Homo sapiens: one gene and its partner. The protein of the gene in region 2 purifies or fractionates together with the protein of the main gene of each other region. This does not show direct contact. Each region holds a gene or a part of one and is shown on either strand. Other genes may lie near its edges.

What was found.
Region 1: the proteins of SKAP1 (region 2) and MYCBP2 purify together in Homo sapiens (affinity purification with mass spectrometry; 3 studies listed by BioGRID and IntAct, with this or other methods). This does not show direct contact.

The regions. Positions count from the first base shown.
Region 1 is NC_000013.11:77,316,561-77,321,611, forward strand, and holds part of MYCBP2 (E3 ubiquitin-protein ligase MYCBP2), read right to left. Parts: intron 1-5,051. UniProt on the Homo sapiens protein: Atypical E3 ubiquitin-protein ligase which specifically mediates ubiquitination of threonine and serine residues on target proteins, instead of ubiquitinating lysine residues.
Region 2 is NC_000017.11:48,176,671-48,182,214, forward strand, and holds part of SKAP1 (src kinase-associated phosphoprotein 1), read right to left. Parts: intron 3,579-5,544; coding exon 3,384-3,578; intron 1-3,383. UniProt on the Homo sapiens protein: Positively regulates T-cell receptor signaling by enhancing the MAP kinase pathway. Required for optimal conjugation between T-cells and antigen-presenting cells by promoting the clustering of integrin ITGAL on the surface of T-cells.

The sequences.
Region 1 (5,051 bases), on a different chromosome or scaffold from region 2:
GCTTCAAATAAGGCATGGAAAAAGTTCCTCCAGAATTCTGGTGAGTGTCATTTCCTGGAGAAACTTTCCAGAGGAAGGAAAGTGGGTCAAACCACAGCCCCAGCCACTACAGACGGTAAAATTGATATCAACAACTCTTCTCTACTAGCCATTCTAGATTCCTTTAATCTATGGCTAGTATTTCTGTTGGTCCAGGTGGCTGACTTCATGGGGTGGTCACTGGGCCTTTCTCGTGTCCATTTACCACAAACACTGGACAAGGAAGTACCAAGAGACACCTTATAGATCACCTGTGTGCCAAACCTCCATGCTCCACTGTGGAACACAGCCCTACCTCCTCCACATGAACAAGGACATTAACCCTGTCCAAATGGTGACTTCTTTTTTTGTTGTTTTTTTTTTGTTTTGAGATGGAGTCTTGCTCTATTGCCCAGGCTGGAGTGCAGTGGCGCAATCTCGGCTCACTGCAACCTCCACATCCCAGGTTCAAGCAGTTCTCCTGACTCAGCCTCCCAATTAGCTGGGATTACAAGCACGCGCCAACATGCCCGGCTAATTGTTTTGTATTTGTAGTACAAACAGGGTCTCACCATGTTGGCTGAGCTGGTTTCGAACTCCTGACTTCACGTGATCCACTCATCTCGGCCTCCCAAAGTGCTGGGATTACAGGCGTGAGCCATCGTGCCCAGCCTGGTGACTTCTTTATTTAGAAAAGGAGCCCCAAATCCTAGTGGCAGCTGTACTTTAAAGTATAACAGGATTCTCATAGCGCCCTCTGTTGGAAATGTTTCTCTTCTGAGAACCAGGATCTTTTAACCCCTTGCCATCAGAGCTATGGAGATGGGAAGCAGAAACTGCCCAGGTGATTCACAGAGTGATGCTATGCGGAGCCACTCCTAATTTCATGTGATCTTCCTACTGGGAACACTGGAGAATGGGCGCCTCACCCTTGCAGGGCATCATGCCCAAGCTGCAGGATCTCATCATCAGCTGTGCCATCAAAGGACTGTTTTACTGCTCTATCAAGTCATCAGCTTCTGGACGGTGTGGTGCAAGATGGGACAAATGATTCTCCTATTCTATAAAAGTGGGTCCCGGCCGGGCGCGGTGGCTCACGCCTGTAATCCCAGCACTTTGGGAGGCTGACGTGGCCGGATCACGAGGTCAGGAGTTCGAGACCATCCTGGTCCACATGGTGAAACCCCGTCTCTACTAAAAACACAAAAATTAGCTGGGCGTGGTGATGTGCACCTGTAGTCCCAGCAACTCAGGAGGCTGAGGTAGGAGAACTGCTTGAACCCGGGAGGCGGAGGTTGCAGTCAGCTGAGATCACGCCATTGCACTCCAGCTTGGGCAACAGAGCAAGACTCCGTCTCAAAACATAACATAACATAACATAACATAACATAACATAACATAACATAACATAACATAACATAACATAACAGTGGGTCCCTTATTCTGAAATGATCCCTGTAGTAGAGGATCAAACATCCTGCAAGCCCTCAAACAGTAGTCCTGGGTGAGACCCTGCTGGAAAGACAAATTCAGACCCAGAATATGTCTCAAATCCAATCAAAATGAATCATGGTCCTTTCCACTGTATAAGGACTGGTTGGCCTGCTTGAAGGATGATTGATCTCTGCTGCTGTCAGGCTGGATATTCAGCAGCAGCAGTTGCTAGATCAGCACTGGTGAATGAAAACCCTTTTATTGGGCCCATGCACAGCCATCATCGGTAATTTTTCCATGCACTCATAGGCCAAAAGAAATACCAAACAGTAGTGTTTATTAAGTAGTTAGATCCAAATAACAAGAATTCATGTCCTAACAAATGAGTAGACATTTGAAAAAATAACACATAAATTGGAAGAAAAATATTTTTATTTCCTTCTTAAAAACTACAAATACTGGGCCAGGCGCAGTGGCTCACGCCTGTAATCCCAGCACTTTGGGAGAACGAGGCAGGCGGATCACGAGGTGAGGAGTTCGAGACCAGCCTGACCAATATGGTGAAACCCCACCTCTAGTAAAAATACAAAAATCAGCCGAGTGTGGTGGGACACGCCTGTAATCCCAACTACTCAGGAGGCTGAGGCAGAAGAATCACTTGAACCTGGCAGGCGGAGGTTGCAGTGAGCCGAGATCGCACCACTGCACTCTGGCCTGGGTGACAGAGCGAGACTCTGCCTCAAAACAAACAAACAAACAAAAACTTCAATTACTTGATAATATGACATGTGTGCCTGTTAGACACAGAACAACTTCTCAAACTTGGAATCAGACTGAACATGCCACCCTCCTTTCCTGTTCCACACTGATTTTTGCACAGTGCTTGATCTGTATCACAACTAGTAAAAATCCAACCCTGCAAAAATATGACATCATCAAAAGAAATGTGGCATGAGCTAATGTCAAAACCGTGAACTACCTCAAGCTAGTAATTTGTGACAGATATTGCTGTGTTTCCTTTAAAATTCTGAAATATCCCATGGTATTCTTTTGTGTCTGTGGTGGTGCTTTGGGGTGCCTTGGTGCAGTTTGGGAACGTGTGTGTGTGTGTGTTTGTGTGTACAGTCCCTTCCTCCCTTCGCAGATCCAGCACCCCGAACTAGGTGTTCTTGTGACTTAACCCTAGTTGTTGGTTTGGTGATAGTCAGTAGGCGAGAGAGGAGGAGCTGGGGGTAAGAGGGACAGCACAGTCTGCAAGCAACCCCTCTAGCTAGTAGAAGAAGGCCACTTCTGCAGGCCCAGAGGGTTAAGAGGAATTTGGGGTTTCAGGGTTTTCAAGTGCACTCAGATGCCCCATCCTAAGGGTCAGGATTCCTGCCCAACCAGAACACTGACCTTAGCATAGCTGAGAGAGAATTCTACCTACCTTGGTGCTCTGCTACCCTTAAAATTAAGTTTTGGGTTGAAGCCTTAGATTTTTCCTCTTACTGTATATGTGTTTCTTTACATGATGCTAAATAAATTTCCTTTTACATTTTGCCCCCAATTATCTTCCACCTTGCATCATCTTTCTCCAATCTATCAATGTTATTTACCAAAAGCCATCTGATGATTGTCCTCATAATTAATTTCTCTGAACTTCTCAAAAGCCTAGTGCACTCACCAGTGCATTCCCTTCAACAGGAATAGCATTCCAACTCACCACCAGTGAAAGTTTTAAGTTGCATAGCTACAGTGCATGCCAAGCGTTATCAGTATTAGTGCTCCATCTAGCACCAGAATCGATTCTCATTGCCAGCCAGCCAGCCAATAATCCAGCTTCAAAACCTCACTGTAAAGTCTACTTTCTGAGACCACTCCTGGCACCAACTGCTTTGGGTAGGAGGGTTCCCAGGAAACAGACTCTCAAATGCAGATGTGCACACCGGAAGTTTATTGCGGAGTGCCCTCCGAACCAACAACTGTGGGGCAGTGAAAGACGTAAGACTGAACAGAGGAAGGAGTTGATCTGCAATGCAGTCCCAGGAAGCCCTCAGCCAGACCCATGGGAGAGCTCTCTGGTGTTGGGATAGACTTCAAGGTTGGCTTGTCTTATAGCAAAAGCGCTAGGCATTTATATCCCTACACTGTATAGATATTAGATGTAAACTGCCCCTGAAGAGGAGGCATGACTCTGGGGGAGGCAACTCTTGGCTCAGGGCAATGCGTGGAGTGGGACTCAGCTGCAATCAGTTTTAGCTGCCAATATTGCCAAGAGCTAGGGGAACATGTGCCTGAAAGCGGGATCTGAAAGCCTAACCACAGCACCTGCCACACCACCACTGGACTATTACACCAATTTGGCTAATGAGGGAAGAGAATTAAGCATTTATGCTGCTGGATTAGGAGAAACTACATTTCACTGACAGTCAGTGAAGGCCAACTCTTCTTTGCAGAAGAGTACCAGCTAATAAACATAGAAGAAATAACAGAATTATTTTTTAATTCATCATTTTGCAACCCCTAATGAAATTATTGACTCAGACAAGGATTATCAAAGAATGCTAAAAGCATTAGGTAAAAGGCATTCACAATGTGCTCAAATTTTTACCCTGTGATTACTTGTTCTTTACAAATGGAAAAAGCATACATTTACAGAGATGAAATCTAGTAGGTACCGTCTTACCCAAGTAATCAGATTTAACATATTAAATAGTGAGACAACCTCACAACCTCTGGATGGGATGCAACATGCAGTACCCAGCGCCATATACAATATTCTTGCTAAAAAATTTTCTAATGAACACCTAATAAACCCTTAAGGTCTAGCTTCCACTTACAGGAAATACAGATACAAGACAGAAAGATGAACAATACCTGGGGGCCCTGCCCTTAAGGAGCTAGATTTATATGACATTCTAGAAAAGGTAAAATATTAGTGACAGAAAACTGATTTGCAGCGGTCAGTAACCAGGGGTAGGAGGGCCTGACAGAACTTTTTATATGAAGTGATGGAAACAGTCTATACTTGACTGTGGTGATAGTTTCAGGACTCTTCAAATGAACATTTAAAGAGGATGAATTTTATTGTATATAAATTAAACCTCAATTAACCTAACCCCTCCTCAGAAAACCTAAATGTTTAATCTGGTTTTTGAGAAAAAAGTGAGACTATTCTGTTGATTTTTTAAACAAATATATTAAAGGACAAAAGTATTTTTAGATTGACATTTTTATTTTCCTTTTAAGCCCAGAGGCAAGATTTTTTTCTTCTCTTGAGTTAGGAAACTAATTCATTTCACATTTCTACCTACCAGTATACCAATAGAGCAGTTTTTGCCTTAACTTGTGTTTATACACTATACAGGATTCCACTGATATAACAGCTACATGAAGAAAATTACTACCTATGCACAAATACAGATGTACACATACAGATTCAATCCCGCATTACTTCCTGACATATTCCTACAATAAATAACGTCTCTTCATAGCTTAAAACCATCAAGGGTGATCAGTGTCTACTGAATAAAATCTAATTCTTACCTTGGTCTTCAAGATGCCCCATCCTAGCCAAAGCCTCCATTTCCAGAATGAATTCCACTACTGTCCTTCATGAC
Region 2 (5,544 bases):
GAAAACCTTGAGGGCTCTGGTTTTCCCTCAAGGGGAGAAGAGTGCTAGCCACATAGCAAATGCTAATTATCCCATGATTAATGTGATGGAGTGAGTTTAATGTGATGACCCATGCGTTATTTTGATTACAAAAAAACATTTTTTATTGACTTGGTATGTATTACATACACTTTTCTCCCTATTAGGAAGCCCATCTAAATTATACTCTGGAAGGAAGGTCTCACTTACATGGCTTTCCCTATAGAGACAGTGTGGGCTTGTGTGGGCCCCATCCCAAAAGGGAGGATTAGCAGAACCGTCAATGTTAAATATCCTCCACAAAGCACATTTACCTATTATAAGGAAACAAATGTTAGAGGCCCACATCATTTGACTCTTGATGGGTATGCAATGTTAGCACAATCCAATGTTACTGTAGGCTGTCCCTCCACCCAGCACCTGGCCTCGTAGTCAAAATGGGCCTGAGCAGAAGGTGCACTCCACATTCCATCTGCTCAGGATTTTCAGTTTCACCTGCTCCATACACATAGCTGGAAATAACCAACTGGACTGTCTCAGGTCTGGTTCGAGAGGGCAGGGACCTAACCATCCCCAGTTCTTCAAGGAGGTAACACTTCCTGTTTAAACACCATCACATTAATAACAGCCAGCATTTACTGAGTACTCACTGTATGCCATTGTTTGCCAGGGTTCTGTGCTAAGAACTTTACACATGTCAGTTCCAGACTCCTCAGCACATCCATCTGAGACAGCTACTATTGTTTTCCCTGTTTTGCAGGTAATACAATCAGACAGAGAGGGCAAGTAACTTGCTCAAGATCTCACAGCTAGCAGGTGGCAGAGCAAATCCATCCTGATTTAGAGCTAGTATCTGTGCCTAGGATACCATTGCTGTCTCATGTGCCGCTGCTTGGTAGATGGTCTTATGAGAGGGCAGCAGAAAGGAGACAGTGTTAGGCCCCCTCACATTCCCTTCTTAATTTCTCCAGGTGTGGCACTATGCAAAATTCAAACAGCAAGTTCAGAAGCAACAGCTAAGTGGAGTGGACAGGAAGCTGGGTGATGGAAACTTGTGGCTGAAATATTCATATCATAATTAAATGCCAATATATCCCACCTCCAACTCTGACTCTAAGAACTGTGATGGATAGAGGCTTATGGGAAAGAACCTGTTGGCTGGGTACAGTGTTGTCCTTTGGAAACTAGGTGCAGTTTAGCTGTTGTTTCCCTAACCTGCAGAAAGAGATCCTGGATTTCCTACTGTGTGGCCTTCCTCACTTCCAATGGGCAGCTGTTGTGGATAGAGGTTAAATGTACCTACAGATGAGTCTTCATGCCCTTGGGGCCACTCCAACATACCAGCTGGTGTAAATTTTGGAAAAATGCCCTGATACTCTGGGCGGTGCTGCATTGGCCAAGGGGAGGAGTTTAGGAGGCAGGAGAAAGATGGTCATTAGGAAGCCAATCATACCTTCATTGCCCACTCCTGGGGTAAGGTGACAGTCCCAAACTCATCTTATTTTTTGAGGACTCTTCCTCTTTATTCACCTTTGCTCTGTGTCTCTAAGCATCAGCCCCCGCCCCCCGACTCCTTTGAAAACGAAACATGGTGCAGAAAAAGGCCCTTTCTTTCCACCCGAGAAGGTTCACTGAGGTTTTCCCAGAGCATTCTTCCACAGTTGTAACCCAAAGTGGAGTGTCACCCGGATATTTCCCCAAGCCTGGGCAGGAGTGAGCAGAATGTGAGCTCACTAGGAAGATTCTGGCCAAGCTGGGGAATGCATCTCCTTTTAGGGAGTATTGTGAATTAGATCCATTTCTGCACCCTGCTGTTGCAATGGAGCCGACTGTGAAAGGGAAGATTCTCAGAGGAGCTGTGTTTTAATGTAGCAATTTGATTCAATTTTCCACTCTATAAAATTACCCATCACTGCTCGTTGCTTTCTAACAGACACCTTCACTCTTAATTTAACAATCCTATCGAATTCTGCCAGGGAAATTGGAAAAATTTATCACCTGTGAAATTTTATTTTCCTTTGGTTGTATCTGTTTTTGTAAAACTTCATTAACGACGATGACTTGCTGAGGAAATTATCATTTTTTTTAACGTCAGACACAAGAAATGGCTCGACCTCAACCAAGATATCATTTGCATAATAAAACACAACAAAAAGGCTGGAGAAGTCGGGACTGGTAGAGGCTGGAAGTGCTAGGAGAAGAAGCAGGCTCTCCTTGGAGGGTGGGTGAAGTCCCCAGCAGGGCAGGGACATGTGGTCACAGTCCTGCCACTTGACTCAGGAAGCAAAGACGTAGCTTCTTCCCCAGGAAGAGATGAATGCAGTGTGGAGAGGGTTGGACGCTCTTCTTAGGAAGCCTTGAAATGCAAGTTGCCTACTGATGATGCTTTCAGCAACCAGCCCTGTCTTCAGGGACTTGAGTGTTAGATTCACCTTAGCTCTTAGGTTCATCTGGGATTGAGGTTCATCTGGGTTCATCTGGGATCTAAATTGTTATAAATTTAGGCTTAACTTGAATTTCTCAGCAGAGCACTGAACTCCTGGCAAATTTCCATAGGAATGATCTTTCTGAATGGACTTGAAGATTAGCGTTCCTGTGGTCTAACTACTTCACAATTAAAAGGCTCAGGCTTTGGTTCTCCACTGTCTGACCCCCACTGAGCTTTGCACCATTCACCAGCTGCTGTTATCCCCACCAGACATGGCTATGCAGAAGCAGTGATGACTATACATTTTTTGAGATGCTAGTTTTCATGCCTTTGGAAGAAAGGAAATATATTGAGTAGACCTGCTGTAATGATGAGCAGATAAAACATGTTAGGGTTATTTTTAAGAGATGTGATTTGATTCATGGTATATCTGAACTAGGTAATAATGAGTTGTTCTCTATCAAGGTTTACTATCAAGGTTTGGTCTATCAAGGTATTACTAGAAAGGTTGGTCAGCATTTGCATATTTCAGAGTTTTGAAATCCTTCATAATTTTGAAGCGATTTTCCATTATTCTCACAACTACACACCAAAAAGTTGAAACTAGAGAATTTTGATGACTCATTCCAAAACTCACAATAAACCAATAAAAACCAACGTAAGTATTGTTGACTCTTTAACCTGGTGGACACATGTAAAAAGTTACTTCACATGGCATGGATAGAAGACACTCATTAATCAAATTCTTCTTGCTCCCAGAGCAAGGCAGAGCCTCATTACCCACTTCCCTACAATCTCATAAAGCGTCCCACATTATCTCCTTCAGAGGATGAGGGTTAGATTTGGCTTCCTTTGGAATTTTCAAAGTTATTATTCTTCCACCAGGTCATGAATTTCTGAAACTAGCATAAGATAATCAGAGGACAAAATTTCTCACCTGGCAAGACTTCATAAATATCTTCTTCTTCTTTCTCCTCTGTAGGCTCTTTTATCCCCACACTCCCAGGCAAGATAGTGGGTCTGCACTGGGAACCACAACTTGGGGAGTCAAAACCATCAATATCATCATATGTCTCTTCTTTTTCTTCTTCCTCCTCATCCTCTTCATATGGAATGGTTAAGGAGCTCAGATCTAACAAGGCAAAGATGAGAATGAATCAAGAAACAGAGAAAAAGAAAATAAGACAGGAAAGGAAAGAGGGAGAAGGAGGAGGAGGGATGAGAGTAAAATATGTCAAATGAAAATGAAACATTAGGTTAAATGCTATTATTTCTAATGTGGGCTTTGGTGGCAGGAAATCTACAGAAAAGGCCAGAATAGCACTGCATCAGGTTTAAACCATCAACATAAATCCTTCCTTGCAATAAAACTTGATCAGAGTGAAGCAGCCTGAAAAGTATGGGTGTGTGAATGAGAACATGAGGCAAAGGGAAGAAAATAGGCCAGAAGAGGAAAAGCCAGTGTGCTGTACACAGCTTATCACGTAGAAAACTGGAAGGGTGAGTGAAGGCTTGCAGTCCTCCAGGGTACTCAGGCCGTGGGAGCTAAGGTGGCCTCTGTAGGGTGCTGGAGCTGTCAGAAGCTTATCTCCCCAGTGATTTCACTGCAGAATTTCAGACAAGTTTGTTCGCAGAGAAAAAAATGGGCAACAGTGGAAGATAAAAAGAAACGGGGTATGGAAAAATATAACAGTAATACAAGACCAAATGGAATGGCTGAACAATGCAGTTACCATGTCCTTTTGCAACTGCACAGTCTAGCTGACCTTAAAGTGGGTCACTGCATAGAAGGTGTTGAGCCATTACAGCACTGGGGAGCACCAGGGCAGGGGAGGGAGATTGGTTTTTTATTTTAATGGGGAACTGAGAATGTTCATTCTCTGATGTGTACTACAGAGTGCTCTCTGAAACCCTGCTGAGGGCCCTCTGCAGGATGGGTGAGTGCAGTCAGCATACTCTGGGGAAGGAAAGGATGGAGAGACGTCCAACTTTCATTTCAAAATGCAATAAAATTGTTTGGCTTGATTAGCCTTTTAATAAAGATTTTGCAACAATTTTCATCTGAATTTTGGTGCCACCACATACGAGGAAAAGATCAAAAACACATTTGTGGCTTAAACCATATGTTATTATTTTGTTTTAAAATAAAATGGAATGAATAATTTCTTCAATGTGGGATTCTGAAAGTACCACAGGGTACAGCTCAATAAAGCTGCTTTGAGTTTTATTGAGGTTTACACACTTAGGGGTATATTACACGCATAAATCCAAGGCACCTAGATGAGAGTGTACCCTGTAGTCTCGCCATCAATGTTCATGTTTGCCTAGTTCCAGTCTATTATACGTGACGCTGTTGGTAGATGCAATAGTTTGCTTTTGTGATAGCAAAGGCATAACTGAGTAAAACAGGCAATTCTTGTAATTAAAGCACTGGTGCTTCCTTCTTTTTATCCACAATAAAATCTTATAGCAGAATAAAAATCTGAGATGAAAAGGCTTTGCGTTTTTAGCTTGACGTGTGTCTTTCTAGGTCTTGGGCCATGTATAAAGTTGGTGTTTCTGCCTTTCTGCAGAACAGAGGTAGGGTCCTGCCATGATGGTAGGTGACAATTATATAATACCGAGTGACTAACTCAAGGTTGGCTTATTCTACCTGACAGACCACTCCCAGATAAGGCTTCCCTGGCCATTGTTTCTGCTTTGCCTACAGGCTGGCCAGCAGAGGGTACTCTAAGAGCAGTCATTTACCATCTTCAGGCAGGACTCTTCCCATCCCAAAGCAAGGAACATCTTATTGTGGCTTGGGAAATAACAGTTTGTTTTTAATGTCCAATGTCCCTGAAGACCATCTAGATTGGTTTAGATTTCTACTTCCTCCTAAGACTAAAATAAGGAGATTTTGAACCTCAATTGCAACTAGATGACTTTAAGTTGGATATTATGAATTTCCTTTCCAGAATATAAGGGGTTAGGAGACACCGAATTGGGCTGAGCTGATTTTTAGAATCTCCTTTTCTAGTGATTTTGAATATTACAGACTTGCCTGTAGGTAGGTGGATGAGCTATGATACCAGAGGTCCTCCCAAGGTTGATACTGT